4 linked regions of the Homo sapiens genome follow. The protein of the gene in region 2 purifies or fractionates together with the protein of the main gene of each other region. This does not show direct contact. Each region holds a gene or a part of one and is shown on either strand. Other genes may lie near its edges.

The links.
Region 1: the proteins of RALYL (region 2) and CCDC9 purify together in Homo sapiens (affinity purification with mass spectrometry; 3 studies listed by BioGRID and IntAct, with this or other methods). This does not show direct contact.
Region 3: the proteins of RALYL (region 2) and CCDC12 purify together in Homo sapiens (affinity purification with mass spectrometry; 3 studies listed by BioGRID and IntAct, with this or other methods). This does not show direct contact.
Region 4: the proteins of RALYL (region 2) and CWF19L1 purify together in Homo sapiens (affinity purification with mass spectrometry; 2 studies listed by BioGRID and IntAct, with this or other methods). This does not show direct contact.

The regions. Positions count from the first base shown.
Region 1 is NC_000019.10:47,263,025-47,266,524, reverse strand, and holds part of CCDC9 (coiled-coil domain-containing protein 9), read right to left. Parts: intron 1,923-3,500; coding exon 1,839-1,922; intron 1,753-1,838; coding exon 1,579-1,752; intron 1-1,578. UniProt on the Homo sapiens protein: Probable component of the exon junction complex (EJC), a multiprotein complex that associates immediately upstream of the exon-exon junction on mRNAs and serves as a positional landmark for the intron exon structure of genes and directs post-transcriptional processes in the cytoplasm such as mRNA export, nonsense-mediated mRNA decay (NMD) or translation.
Region 2 is NC_000008.11:84,181,788-84,186,073, reverse strand, and holds the start of RALYL (RNA-binding Raly-like protein), read right to left. Parts: upstream 2,801-4,286; 5' UTR 1,650-2,800; intron 1,404-1,649; exon of another isoform or gene 1,076-1,403; coding exon of another isoform or gene 1,060-1,075; exon of another isoform or gene 891-1,059; coding exon of another isoform or gene 841-890; intron 1-840.
Region 3 is NC_000003.12:46,938,746-46,942,245, reverse strand, and holds part of CCDC12 (coiled-coil domain-containing protein 12), read left to right. Parts: intron 1-1,180; coding exon 1,181-1,248; intron 1,249-3,489; exon of another isoform or gene 3,490-3,500.
Region 4 is NC_000010.11:100,254,139-100,257,638, forward strand, and holds part of CWF19L1 (CWF19-like protein 1), read right to left. Parts: intron 2,339-3,500; coding exon 2,124-2,338; intron 1-2,123.

The DNA of each region.
Region 1 (3,500 bases), on a different chromosome or scaffold from region 2:
CACACAGGGAAGCGATGACAAGGCAGAGATCACAATCAACTAGGCTCAGGTGGCACCTCCTCACAGAGGCCCTCTCAGATCTCCTAAGTAGCATCCCTCTGTCCCCTCAGCTGCTGGATTTTTCTCCACAACACTTGGTAGGACCTCACATCTCACTATATTTTCATTTACTCAGCTCCCACCAGAAGAAACCTCATCAAGGCAGGGGCTCTGCCTCCAAACTCTTCTCCCGCCGGGCGCGGTGGCTCACGCCTGTAATCCCAGCACTTTGGGAGGCCAAGGTAGGCGGATCATGAGGTCAGGAGATGGAGACCATCCTGGCTAATATGGTGAAACCCTGTCTCTACTAAAAATACAAAAAATTAGCTGGGCGTGGTAGCGGGTGCCTGTAGTCCCAGCTTTTCGGGAGGCTGAGGCAGGAGACTGGCATGAACCCAGGAGGCAGAGCTTGCAGTGAGCCGAGATCGCGCCACTGCACTCCAGCCTAGGCAACAGGGCAAGACTCTGTCTCAAAAAAAAAAAAAAAAAAAAAAAAAAAAAGCCAGGAGCGGTGGCTCACGCCTGTAATCTCAGCACTTTGGGAGGCTGAGGCGGGCAGATCACGAGGTCAGGAGATAGAGACCATCCTGGCTAACATGGTGAAACCCCATCTCTACTAAAAGTACAAAAAATTAGCTGGGCATGGTGGTGGGCACCTTAGTCCCAGCTACTGGGGAGGCTGAGGCAGGAGAATGGTGTGAACCCGGGAGTCGGAGCTTGCAGTGAGCCAAGATCACGCCACTGCACTCCAGCCTGGGCGATGGAGCAAGACTCCATCTCAAAAAAAAAAAAAAACCTCTTATCCTCAGCACCTAAAACAGTACCTGGCACATAGTAAGTGCCCAGTAAACAATACTGTTAGTAACAAGAAAACCCTCAAACATACCACAAAGCTGTAACAACTAGAGCCACGTGGTACTGACAGAAGAACCAACAGACGGACAATTTAGGGGTGGACCACCAAGTGCAAGGACACTGCCCCTGCCTCCTCTTCTAGGCCAGGTCCCCACCCCTCACACAGCACCTGCCATGTGGTAGGTGCCTCATAAATGCTGGTGTCATTAACAATGAGGGGAGATTTACCTTGGCAGGAAACAAAACATACCATAAATCCTTAATAATTAAAATCCTGGGCAAGCACAGTGGCTCACACCTATAATCCCAGCATTTTGGGAGGCCGAGGCAGGTGGATCACTTGAGGTCAGGAGTTCAAGACTAGCCTGGCCAACATGGTGAAACCCCGTCTCTACAAAATACGAAAAAATTAGCCAGGTGTGGTGGCACTTGCCTGTAATCCCAGCTACTCGGGAGGCTGAGGCAGAATTGCTTGAGCCCAGGAGGCAAAGGCTGCAGTGAGCCGAGATGGTGCCACTGCACTCCAGAATGGGTGACAGAGCGAGAATCCGTCTCAAAAAAAAAAAGTCCTGTGCTGTGGCACAAAAAAGGAGAGGCCCCATGGCCCTGATCTGTCTGGTTCCTGCTATGCAGTCCCCATCAAAGCCCTGAGAGCCCCGAGGTGTCCTCACTGCCAACACCCACCTGCCGCTCGTGCTCAAGGCCACAGCGCACCCGCTCGAAGTCGGGGCCCCCCCAGTTGCGGCCGTGCCGGCGGCTCTCCTCCCGGCGGTCCCGCTCAGACTCCTCCAGGGGCCCGCTGCGTCGCCGGGGGTCGTCCAGGAAGTTCCGCACTGGGTTGGGTTCAAGAACCCCTTCCTGCAGGCAGCAGAGCAGGGGGTTGGCGCGGGCTCCCCGCAGCCCAGGCAGCTCGGCCCTGCCTCGGGGACACCCGCACCACTGACCCGCTGGTTGCGCTCATACTCGGCGATCTTCTCCATCTCCTCATTCATCTTCTCAATGTTCTGCCTGCGCCGCTCCTCCCACTCCTGGGGGGATAAAGATAGGGACACCCAGCTTCAGGGAGAACTATTAAGCTGCCGGTGCAGGAGACGGGCTGCCCAGCAGGCCTGAGGCTCCTCTCCTCGGACTGGCCTGCTGGCATCTGACCATTTGCTCTCAGCGTGCTCCAGGTCAGCAGTGAACTGATGAGGCTGGCTGGCCAGGCTTGGACTATGCGAACAACACGCTGTACGCTGCATTCGCCTTCCTACTGGGGGGTCTGGAATTTCAGTACATACTAGACAGAAGGGGCCTGCGTTCAAAACTAGCCTCCAGGCTGACATGGTGGCTCACACCTCTAATCCAAGCACTTTGGGAGGCCAAGGCAGGAGGATTGCTTCAGCCCAGGAGTTCAAGGCCAGACTAGGCAACATAGCAAGACCCTGTCTCTACAAAAAATTTTAAAAGTGGCCGGGCGCGGTGGCTCACGCCTGTAATCCCAGCACTTTGGGAGGCCGAAGTGGGTGGATCACCTGAGGTCAGGAGTTTGAGACCAGGCTGGCTAACATGGGGAAACCCCATCTCACTAAAAATACGAAAAAAATTAGCCAAGCATGGTGGTGGGCGCCTGTAATCCCAGCTGCTCGGGAGGCTGAGGCAAGAGAATCACTTGAACCCAGGAGGTGGACGTTGCAGTGAGCCGAGATTGTGCCACTGCACTCCAGCCTGGGCAACAGAGTAGGACTCTGTCTCAAAAAATAAAATAAAATAAAAATAAAAATAACGGGTCGGGCACAGTGGCTCACGCCTGTATTCCCAGCACTTTGGAAGGCCGAGGCAGGTGGATCACGAGGTCAGGAGTTCGAGACCAGCCTGGCCAACATGGTGAAACCCCGTCTCTACTAAAAATACAAAAGTTAGCCGGGCATGGTGGTGGGCACCTGTAATCCCAGCTACTTGGGAGGCTGAGACAGGAGAATTGCTTGAAACCAAAAGGCGGAGGTTGCAGTGAGCCGAAATCATACCACTGCACTCCAGCCTGGGCAACAAGAGTGAAACTCCATCTCAAAAACAAAAAGAAATTTTAAAAACTAAATAAATACAATAAATAAAAATAAACCAGCCCCCAATTAAAAACCTGGAGTGCTGAATCTCTCGTGGGCATCCCTGGTAAGCCACATGTTGTCACAATTCAGTGCTGGAGGAATTCAGCGCATCCCCTGGGACTCCACAGGGAAAGGACTCTTGGAAGTTCATGCCGGGTTTCCTCCAGACCTCAGCCCAGGTACCCCGCCCCCTGCTGATTTTGCTTTGTGATCTCTTTCACTGTGATAAATCTAAGCCATGAGTCTTTCTAGCAAACCACTGAACCTGCGAGTTCAGTGTCAGGGTGCTGGGGGCCCTGGCACACCAAGGTTGCCGCAATCATAGTGGTGGTAATAACAGTAATTACTTGGCAGATGGTTAGGTGACCTACCCCCACCAACCACAATCCGTTCTCCCCTTCTTCCTTCCATGGTAGCAAAAATTTATTGATTTTTTTTTTTTTTGAGACAGGGTCTTACTCTGTTGCCCAGGCTGGAATGTAGTGGTGTGTGTTCACAGCTCACTGCATCCTTGACCTC
Region 2 (4,286 bases):
TTCCCCGCCAGGAAATACAATGAAATGTCCAAAGACTTTTGAGATACTTGCATGAGTTGTGAATAAAAAATATATACAACTTTCCAGATATTACACTAACTTTTAATCTTCTACAGTTAAATGGCCCATTGCACGCCTTACTTTTTGACCACAAAGAGTAAAAACTAAGGCGTAAAACCTTTCATTCCACAAACTGAGGTTACAGACAGTGAAATATTTGCTTGAAAAAGCCAGTGTATGTTATAAACCCCTTTGTCATGGGCCCCTCTGTATGTTGCAGTCAGTTTTTATTTCTGTAGTTACCTAGAAGAAAACTTCATCTGAGAGGTAAAAAGTTGTTGTTTCATTTGCTTTATGTTTATTTTACAGAATTCAAAGTATATACACATGGTAATTTAAAGCTAAGCTTTTCATTTAAGGGGGGAAAAGGTAAGAAAATCAAAGCTTCAAAATCAAAGTATTTAAATAATGGTGACTCTCCAGATTTTAAGATGTATGCCTTCAGGAAATTTATTTGGACAGAAAAATTTCCAGCAGATTCGGTCACAGTGTTAAATACAGAAAAGGCTTTTTATTGCCAACTGGTACGTCTCTGAAAAGTAATGCTAAATTATACTGAAAACATGTAACAGGATAATCATAAAATATCATAGAATACATTCAACATTGAATACGTCAGTGCTACCAACACACGAAATCATCACCTCTATCACCAACCCCTCACTCCTGCCCTGTACACAGTTCTCAGGGGAAAACCTTTAGAGCCAGTATCAGGTGGTTAAAAAGAGGGAAAACTCTGCCCCTTTAACAAAATTTAAATAAAAGGCATTTTTTTAATACCTTAGAGGTGTAGGGTCATTACTGCAAACTAACAGCGTCGTCCTCAACATTAAACCCAAGTGATCATCTTATAAGAAACTATTTCCCCATCCCCTGGAAGACGACACCAGCAGGCACTTAAAACCAACGCAACACAACAGGGAAAAAAAAGATCCAAAGACAGCATCCCTAAGAAAGCAAAGCCCTTTGGTAAAGCAAAATAGGCTGGGTAGGACCTACTGCGTCGTTTACTCATTGCGAAGAGGAGGAGCAGGAGTTGAGCGTGCGAGGGCCGGTGCCATCCTCAAGGCTCTGGAAATGTCTCCAGCTCCGGCTCGCGTGGCCTGGAGCCAGCCCCTCCGGAATATGCGGTCTCTGCCGCTTCTACCCCCATCTCCCGGGTGCTCTGAGGGTCCCCTCTAGCCCGCCCGACGGCCAGCGCCACGTACACGGCCCTCGCCCCTCCTGCTGTGCAAGTGGCCCTCGGAGAACTTACAGGGCCCGCCGGCCGCCTAGTGCCCGGCCGGCGCGGCCCGCAGCGCAGACGCCACCCGCCCCGCCGGGAGACGACCTGGGCGCAGCTCACCGTGGGAGGGGTGGGGGGAGGGGACTGTATTTTGCGCACATCTAGAAAACGATCCTGAAGCAGGGAACGGACTTTGGTTTTCCCTGGCTCCCTGCGCCGCTCTCCCCACCTCGGGCTCGGACACTGCCCGGAGATGCGCGCGCGCAAACACAGACACACACACACACTCACACTCACACATTTCTTTGCTAGGACCAGTGTTGCCACTGCACACCCGGGAAACGCCTCCAAGGGGACCAAGTACCTGCTCTCTGCGAGCTGCTCAGCTGTTCACTTCATCCTCCGTTGACAAGGAAACCAAACCGCACTTCATTTTTTTTTTTCCAGAAAAACCTTCCACTGCCATCATTTGAAAATTGATTTACGGGGAGGGAAGGGGGAGAAATAAGGGACAATATAGATATAGATATCAGGATATCTATCATAAAATTATCTCGGTTTTTTAAAAAAGTCAAATGTGCAAAAGTCATAGTTAATTTAAAGGAGGAAAAAAGTATTTTGCTTAAAAATGATCCCAATCACCAGCTGTAAGAAAAGTTTCATGTTATCAATGGGTATCAAAAACAGGAGGGAAAAAAAACGAATTTGTTTTCACCGGCTTCCAAAAAGGGCACAAAAAATATAAAATTAATGTCTTTGCTCAGTGGTTTGCACCAGTATTGCAAGACCACAAACTTGTAAACACTGCCGTAAAATCCCACCTATACAAAAATGTTATCAGAAAAAGAGTATGCAAAAAAAGAGTTAGAAACATGCTTTTTATTTTTACAAAGGAAAAAAATAGGCACCATACTTCACATCGCTTTTTCCATAAAACCAGTTGCACATTTTGCTGGACTTGGGAGACGCTCCCAGCGGGCACGGTCGCCGCGGACTCCGAGACACAGCGCCTTGTCTACAGAACGATCGCATGCTAGAAAAACTTGGATTCAGGAAAAGGCTCAAAACCATGCTCCTCCAGCTTTCCCAAATATAAACAATAATCAAAGAAGTGGAAAAAAAGAAAAAAAACAAAAACAAAAAAAACAAAAAACCAAAAAAAAGGACAAAAAAAAGAATAGGACAAGAATGCCACTGAGAAGGTACTCACCGAGCGGGAGTAAAATGTTGGAATAAAAATGAGATTTAGTATAAAATACAGTATGGCGGTGGAAGAAGGAATGAAGCGCGTTTTTTTCTCGCAGTCTCTGCCTCAGGCACTGACACGTGACTCGGAGCCAGGCTGACTTGCAGGCAGCGGGGAAGGACCGAGGCTGCGAGGGGGGAAGCCCACGGAGCCCAACTCTGGCTGGCGAGGCGGCGGCGGCGGCGACGGGGAGCCTGGCGCCTGAGAGCGGCAACACCAGTGGCGGCAGCAGCGGCAGCGGCAGCTCGCGGCGAGGCTGCCTTCGCTGTGAGCCCAGACGAGCAGGTGCCCCTCACGCTGAGGCTGAGCACACGCACACGCACACGCAAGACAGGCAGGGCGCCGGCGAGAGGGGGAGCCGAGCGGGGTTGGGCCCGAGGCGCGCAGCTGCCGCCGCCTCTGCCGCTGCTGCCGCGATTGCTGCTGCTGCCTCTGTTGCTGCCGCCGCCGCCTCGCATTGGGAGTGTGTGCTGTGGGGGCAGCTCAGGGGTGCTGATCCAGCGCCTTGAGAGGAGGTGCACAACTTGCTGCTCACCTCAAAGTTGTTGCTTGCCACTTCCTTGTGTATTTCATCTATTTTTCATCTACAGGTAGTTACCTGGGGAGAGATCCCATCGTCTTCTCTCTGGAAGTTTTACTATTCAAGCCCACATTCACTCATTCATTTTGTTTGTTTGTTTGTTTGTTTCCCTGATTTTCCATTTCCCATCCCTCCCAAGCTGCCTTTGCCTCTGCTGTTCCCTCCTCCCTAGATCTGCGTTTCCCCCTCCCGGTTCTCAGGGAACCTGGCTCAGCGCGATGCTGGGGGCGTTGTCACGGGCAAAGCCACTGTCAATCTTTATTGCCATCTGAACGCACAGCCTCTCTTTCGCCGTCTTCAAGGGGAATGCTTGCAGTTTGAAAGACACAACAAAATCTCTTATTTAGGAAACCCCGTCCCGGGTTTCTTTCTGCGGGTTGCGGAGCGGTGGGTGGGGGCATGGGTGTCCTTTATTCATTCGTGGACAAGGCATTGTTTTGTCTGTGTGTGCGCCCGTGCTTCTGAGCTGGTCTGGAAAGCTCCAAGGGTCTATGCTCCATGGCAGAGACTCCTGTTTGACTCTTGCTCAAGTTGTTCGCTGAGGCTGGAAGTCAAAGGAGAGGGGCATGGGAAACAAGTGAGTCCATTGTGTGAGTGCTCGCCTGGAGGGAGCAAGCACTTGGCGGTCGAGAGGGGGAGACGTGTACCAGCAGTGAGGCGGTGGCGCACCCCGCGGGAGCCAGGTGGCTGAGCAGTGGATTCTGAAGGTGAGGGTGGCAGAGGGATTTCTCCACCCAGCGTGTGGGTTAGGGCGCTCATCGATCGCCTGAACAAAGATGCCATCAGCCAATCGCTGGGTGCATTGGGCTTCTATTACTGCCTGTTGAAGAATCAGCTTTGTGGACGCTAGAACACATCTATTTTTCTTCATTTTTGTACAATACTCACCTCAGGACCATTTCCCTGTGCTGCTTTGAATCTAGGTTGTGTGGAATTAATTGGCGTCTCTATATTTGAGAATGAGCAATTAACACAATTCTGCAGTTCAAAGATTCCTGCTCCCGATCTTTATCTCAATGTTTCCAATGCTGACGTTTCATATAAAATGCCTCCATCAGAGATGATCTAACCTCGACATTCTGAAAATTAAGTACACATCCTTCACACAGAGCTTCAGTAGCAAATATGGTCCTCAAACATTGTGCTCAGAATTCATTGGCCAAATAAAGTTTTAA
Region 3 (3,500 bases), on a different chromosome or scaffold from region 2:
CGAATTTGTGCATGTGCACACACGCCCTGCGTCAGTTTGTCCACAGGCAGGCTGACCTAACAGAGGTAATCACATAATAAAGGATAAAGTCCAGGAAGACATTTTCTGCTTCAGGTGGAAGCAGTATGGCAGTTTCCTTCTGTTGTGGCCCCCAGTGCACCTGAGAACAAGCATAACATGTCAAGGTTGAGATGAACATGACTCTGTAGACTTCAAAAAGAGGTGCAGTTGGTGGGAAGTCAAAAGAACCAGATTAAGAAAATTTTCATGGAAACTTCAGACTAATTCCCCTTGCCTCTGTCTCCCTGAATATAGCATAGGCCTAGGCAGTGAATCTTGTTGCAAGCCTGGTCCTAGTTCATGTTACTTCTAAAGCGAATCAAATAGGTATTTCTGGAGAGGACTCTGGCCTGAAAGGTGTCTCAGGAGGCCTGAGCTCTCATCCTGCCCTGGTTGCTGGTAACTTCTTTCCCCAGTCTTTCCTAGCTTAGCAGGTGGTTCTGTCTAGACCCATGAAGGTGACTGCTGGCCTGCCAGCATGGCCCCTCCATGGCACCAAGTGGCTGCATTTCTCACCACCTAAAGCCATCCAGCTCTTTCTGTGAGTGTTCTCTAAGGGCTACCAGGTACCTGGGACTGGGCTGGAGTTACGGACTTTTTTTGTTGCTTTTTTTTTTTTTTGAGATGGAGTCTCGCTCTGTCGCCCAGGCTGGAGTGCAGTGGCTTGATCTCGGCTCACTGCAAGCTCTGCCTCCCAGGTTCACGCCATTCTCCTGCCTCAGCCTCCCGAATAGCTGGGACTACAGGCGCCCACTACCACGCCCAGCTAATTTTTTTGTGTGTTTTTAGTAGAGATGGGGTTTCGCCGTGTTAGCCAGGATGGTTGCGATCTCCTGACCTCGAGATCCGCCCACCTCGGCCTCCTGAAGTGCTGGGATTACAGGCATGAGCCACCGCGCCCAGCCAAGAGTTATGGATTTTTAAATTCTGCACAGGCAATGAGGCTCCAGTTGTGCCTATGAGATGCAGCAGGCGTGTACCCTGTTGGAGTCTGGGACACCAAGCTGGGCCCTGCCAGGTGCCCCCCTTCTGAGATGTCCTGTTCTTTAGCTCCCTGGGCCACGTGGACTGGAAGTAGGAGCTTTCAACTGAGCTGGTGGTTTTCTCCCTTTCTTTGCAGGACAAGGAAGATGGGGAGCCAAAGACCAAGCATCTCAGAGAAGAGGAGGAAGAAGGCGAGAAGCACAGGTAATGCCCGTGTGCAGCTCCAGGGTCTGCTCTCTCCTCCAGCACTCATCGGTCTCCCAGTCTCTGGGTCCTCCCAACTCTGTTCAGTGTCTGCCCTGTTCCCTCCCCTCTTCTTTCTGCCCATGGCTGTCCTGTTCAGACCTTAAAATCTCAACATCTCAGAAGGCCCTTGTCGAGGCCTTCTCTGCCTCCTTTCCCTCATTTTCCATTTGGCTGTTACTCAGCCCCCAGCATTTTCTTTCTAGCCCTTACATTATGCCTTTTTACCCTTCTCATACACCTTTTGTGGCGTGGTTCTCCATTGCCTACTGAGTAAGTGCCCCTTCTGCACTTGGCATGTGAAGCTCTGCCTGGACCATCTAGCCTCATCCAACCTCCTCTGGTTTCCCTCTAGCCAGAGCCCTTTGTGGTCGGCCCTTGCCACCTCTGGCCACTCAGCATTTCCTGACCAGTCTTTTGTCCGTCCTCTCAGCCTGGAGGTCCTTCTCATCTCTCCTATACCTTTGATGTCTGGGTCTTCACATAGAGTTCAGCTCAAAGGGCGCCTTTCTCGTTGTCTGTGTCCCTCTGGCTTCATTTCCCTCTGTAGTATTTATCTTATTTTGTCGAATACTCTCATCTGGTTGGGTCCACTTAAGTTGCCTAAACACAGCACACGTGAGGGTCTTGGGTACACTTCCCTCGTGATTGCAGGCACAAGGTCTTCCCCCGCAGTCTTGAGGGCTGCAACCTCCACAGAGCCTCAGATGCTGCTTTGCCTCCCAAAAATCTGGAGCCTGGAAACTGTTGCCGGAACCAGTGTGTGGGGTGAGCGAGGCAAAGCTGTGCTGCTGATCTTTGTGAGCAGAGTGTCTGACTACCACTCCCGTGTCAGCAGTTCCAGAGGTCTCATGTCCTCCCTCCCATGCCTAGCCCTGAGATGGGGCTCTCTTCCTGGGGCCAGACTGTGTGTCTTTCTGGACAGGTTGCCTTGATTTCCTTTGCTCTGAGCAGCTTCCTTCAGGCACAGGGGGGTGTAGATCTTGATGGGCTTAGGCTCTGCTTTGCCCAGGGGGAGCGGGAGGGGAGGGAATGCTCTTTAGAGGAAGCTGGGCAGCCACACCAGAGCAGGCTTTCCTAATGCCACAGCCTTTTTTCACCTTCACCAGTATGAGTAGAACCTCCCCACATGCGGGCCTCATCTCTGCCTTTGTAATCAGGAGCAATCACAGACACGACTTACAGAGTGTTTTCACACCATCCTGAGAGCCCTGCAGAGTCCATGCCCCCTACTCGGGTTCAGACATGCTACCAGCTCTATGCTTAGAGGCTGGTGATGCTAAACAGTGAGTGGGTCTGCCGGCACTGGGCCTGGGGCTTTTTGTTGGGCCTCAGCCCCCAGCTCTTGAAGGTCCCTGGCTGGTGATGGGAAGATGAAGGCCAGTTAGTTGCTCCTTTGCCAGGTGACCCCAACATATGTGGCTTTATGGGTGGGTGCTGGCACAGTTTCCCCCATTCTGTGGTAACTACATATTAGAGGCCCTTTGGTCTTCTGGTTTATTCTTAGTTTCTCAAAAACTGGAACTCTGGCTGGAGCCTGAGTTCCAGTTTCTGGGCTTTGATTTGCTGGTGGTGTTTTCTCTGATCCCCACCCCTCCCCCTCCTCGATGAGAGAGAAGGGTCGCTGGTTTAGCAGGTGGGTGGGTGGGTCATACAGTAAGAGGCTTGAATGTTGAACCATATGGTTGTGAATCTCAAACATGGTGTTGAGTGAAGGAAAAAAGCAGGTTTCAGAATTGAGGCATACAGGGCAGGAACATTTATATCAAATTTAGGAACACAAAATGATATATGTGTGTTACTCAGTTGGCAAGTACTGACTTTATTGGTTGTCTGCTCTGTGCAGGGCACCATTGTGGGCCCCTGGAAGGCAACAGCAGACAAAGTACAGCCCCTACCCTCATGGAGCTGACATTTTCTGGAAGGAGACAGGCTGTTAACGAAGAAGCAGGCGTGTGATACAGTGTCAGGTGCTGCCAAGAAAGCGAAAGCAGAAGTGTAAACACATACATGAGGAGTGATGCCTCCGATTGCTGTCTGGGGAAGCAAGGAGGAAACAGGATTAGGGAAAGGCTCTATGATGTGTGATTTTTTTTTTCTTTTTTTTGAGATGGGGTCTCGCTCTGTCACCCAGGCTGGAGTGCAGTGGCGCTATCTCAGTTCACTGCAACCTCCACGTGGCTCCCAAGCTCAAGCGATCTTCCCACCTCAGC
Region 4 (3,500 bases), on a different chromosome or scaffold from region 2:
AAAGTGCACGCGTGAGCCACTGCGCCCAGCCTCTAGTTTGTTACGTAGTGCATCTGTAGTTCACGGGTCCAGACAGTCATAGTCAATTCAGAAAATCAAAGCGAAAAGCTAGGCTTCAGGGCTCCTAGGATCCACAGAATATCTGGTATAGAGTATTCAAGGACTTCATCACCAGCATATAATCCTTTATTTTGCTTCAGTCAAGGAAGTGGCAGTTTGAGGAAGGGCATAACCACACCCTTCTTAAGTAATATGAAGTTTGCTCAAAGTTATTCTTGCTCCCAGAACATCCCCAGATTCTGTTAACAACCAATTAAGTGATCTCTCACCCACAGCATTATTTATGAACTCTATTCTAAGAGAAGGTATTACTTGGAAATAAGCTAACAAAGTTTGTTTTCCACTACGTAAAGCAGGAATTTCCTTTTGTCTTATGCTTGTTTCCTTCAGGTTTCTGCTGAAGGGCAGGGAATTAGCTTTGAGGTCAGTCCTAGCATCTTAGGGACTGGTGAACTATACTTTTCTCCTCCATAAATATACTGTATGGTTATTTATAAGCCTTGATCAAAATCAATTTTTAGCTCCCCGCAAAACAAAGGGGCCTCATTTTCTCATCCTTCCTTACAGAGCATCATATGTGTCTTTCTCTCTTCCTTCATCACTTTAGCAGCCCTTCTCTCGATCTTCCCTAGCTTTGCTATATCCTTGTGCTCCAACCAGCTCTATGCCTTGTATTCTACGTAAAGAGTAATCATGGGTTTGTCAAAAAGGAAGAGAGCATCCTCCTTGATAATGCCTGGTATCCTGTTGGCCTTTTTGGTCATGGACACATGGTGCTGAAACTGGCAAGGGGTGGTATACAGGCTCCACTTCTGGATCATCACTGATAATCCTGAATCCAACCATGGAGATTTGTTCCCAAATGCATTCTTACATTTCCCTTCAATGAAGCTCACCCAGTGTTTTCTGCCCTCACACATAACCTTTTCAAAATCTTCCTTAGGCTTACTTCCACCAGTGTAGCGTTTCACTCCCCATGATAGTTGTCACTCCTGGTGTACCATCCTTTTCAAGATTACTCATAAAATATTAAAATCTGGCCAGGTATGGTGGCTCACGCCTGTAATCCCAGCACTTTGGGAGGCCAAGGCGGGTGGATCACTAGAGCGCAGGAGTTCAAGACCAGCCTGGGCAACCCTGTCTCTACTAAAAATACAAAAATTAGGCTGGGCACGGTGGCTCATGCCTGTAATCCCAGCATTTTGGGAGGCTGAGGTGGGCAAATTACTTGAGGTCAGGAGTTTGAGACCAGCCTGGCCAACATGGTGAAATCCCATCTCTACTAAAAATACAAAAAAATCCGCCTGTAATCCCAGCACTTTGGGAGGCCGAGGCAGGCAGATTGTCTGAGCTCAGGAGTTCATGACTAGCCTGGGCAACATGCTGAAACCCCATCTCTAATAAAATACAAAAAATTAGCCAGGCATGGCAGTGTGCGCCTATAGTCCCAGCTACTTGGGAGGCTGAGGCAGGTGAATTGCTTGAACCCAGGAGGCAGAGGTTGTGGTGAGCAGAGATGGCGCCACTGCCCTCCAGCCTGGGTGACACAGCAAAACTCCATCTCAAAAAAAAAAAAAAAAAATTAGCCAGGCGTGGTGGCGCATGCCTATAATCTTAGCTACTCAGGAGGCTGAGGCAGGAGAATCATTTGAACCCGGGAGGAGGAGGTTGCAGTGAGCCAAGATCGCACCACTGCACTCCAACCTGGGCGACAGAGTGAGACTCCATCTCAAAAAAAAACAAAAAACAAAAAACAAAAAAATCAGTGAAGCCTCAAAACATTAAGAGGCTTAGGAAAGGGCACTTGAAGCAGAGAATATAAAAAACCATTCCTTTATAATTAAGATTTCAGCAGTCTCATCTATGAATCACACTTTCATGAAATTAACTTTTGCTTTGATCAGTTGACAGAACTTTTAGAATCCTGAAAATTTTCACAGAAGACTTCTAATAAAAGGTACCCAAGAGCTAAAATACTCAATATAAACAGGAAAAGAAAAAAGTCCCAACTCAAGCCAGTGCAATTTGCTTTTAGAAATTCCAACTAAACAAACACTACTCACAGAAGAATTCCCAAAGTTCCCCACACACTTGGGCCATGGGGATGTGAGCAAGATATCAACACCCTTAAACTGGGAGGTTGTACACAGCATCATTCTCAGAGAAGACACATCCTTGGGACTAAAACTATAACCTGGTACTGGCTCATTTAAGGATTCTGTCCCACTGAGGTACACAATCTGCAGCCCCGAGCTTCCAGTGAAGATACCTTTACGACCTGGGTTCAAAGAAAAATGAACAAATTTTAGTCAGAATTGCAGAATGAAAAGCCATCAATAGGGGGATGAATCTCCCATGACTCTCCTATGTCCCTGCCATTTTACATGTCTGAAGTGTAAACTCTCCAGCAGCTCCCTTCTGGCTGCTAGGCATCAATGGTGAATGGCTACAACAGTATTCCTGCTCAGTAAATATGAACAGCCCTACGTGGAGGCTGCTGGAGCCCACGGGCCAGTATGTTTATGCCAGGTGCCTTACAAATATTACTGGAAAAAGTTGGGAAGAGAAGATTAGGGAAAAGGCTTTCTGCGTTCTAGAGAAGATTCTACATGGACTTAAATGCAGACATCTGGACACAGGAAAAGGCAATGCGAAGAAAAATACAGTTCTAAGGAAGCTACAGTCTAGAAAAGATGCACATAGTGAAACCCCATCCCTACTAAAATACAAAAAATTAGCCAGGCATGGCAGCGTGTGCCTGTAGTCCCAGCTACTTGGAGGCAGGCAGCAACTTCCAAGTGAAGGAAAACATTTGGAAAGAACAAGTGTTTAGGAAAAATTTAAGACGCCACTCTCTTCTATGGTTATTCCTGGCTTGTGGCCTTGTTTCCATTCCCTCCTGTTGCCTTCAAGACCTTGCTCCATCAATTTTCACTTCCCTTTCATCTACTGAGTCTACTCAGCTGGCGCTTTTTGTTCAGAAAAAAATATGCTCAATCATCGCCATCCAAAATGAACACACATACTAAGAAACTTCCTCCTCTTCAGTTTTGAATTTCTGAAGAGTCATCCATGCTAAGTGCTTTACCTTTTTTTTTTTTTTTTTTTTTTTTTGAGATGGAGTCTCGCTCTGTTGCCAGGCTGGAGTGCAGTGGCGCAATCTTGGCTCATTGCAACCTCCACCTCCGCCTCCCGGGTTCAAGTGATTCTCCTGCCTCAGCCTCCCAAGTAGCTGGGACTACAGGTGACCGCCACCATGCCCAGTTAATTTTTCTATTTTTAGTAGAGATGGGGTTTCATCATGTTGGCCAGGATGGTCTCAACCTCTTGACCTCGTGAACTGCCCACCTCGACCTCCCAAGGTGCTAGGATTACAGGTGTGAGCCACCACGCCCAGCCTACTTTATTAGTTCCTTAACCCCCTGCAATCAGTTTCCCTC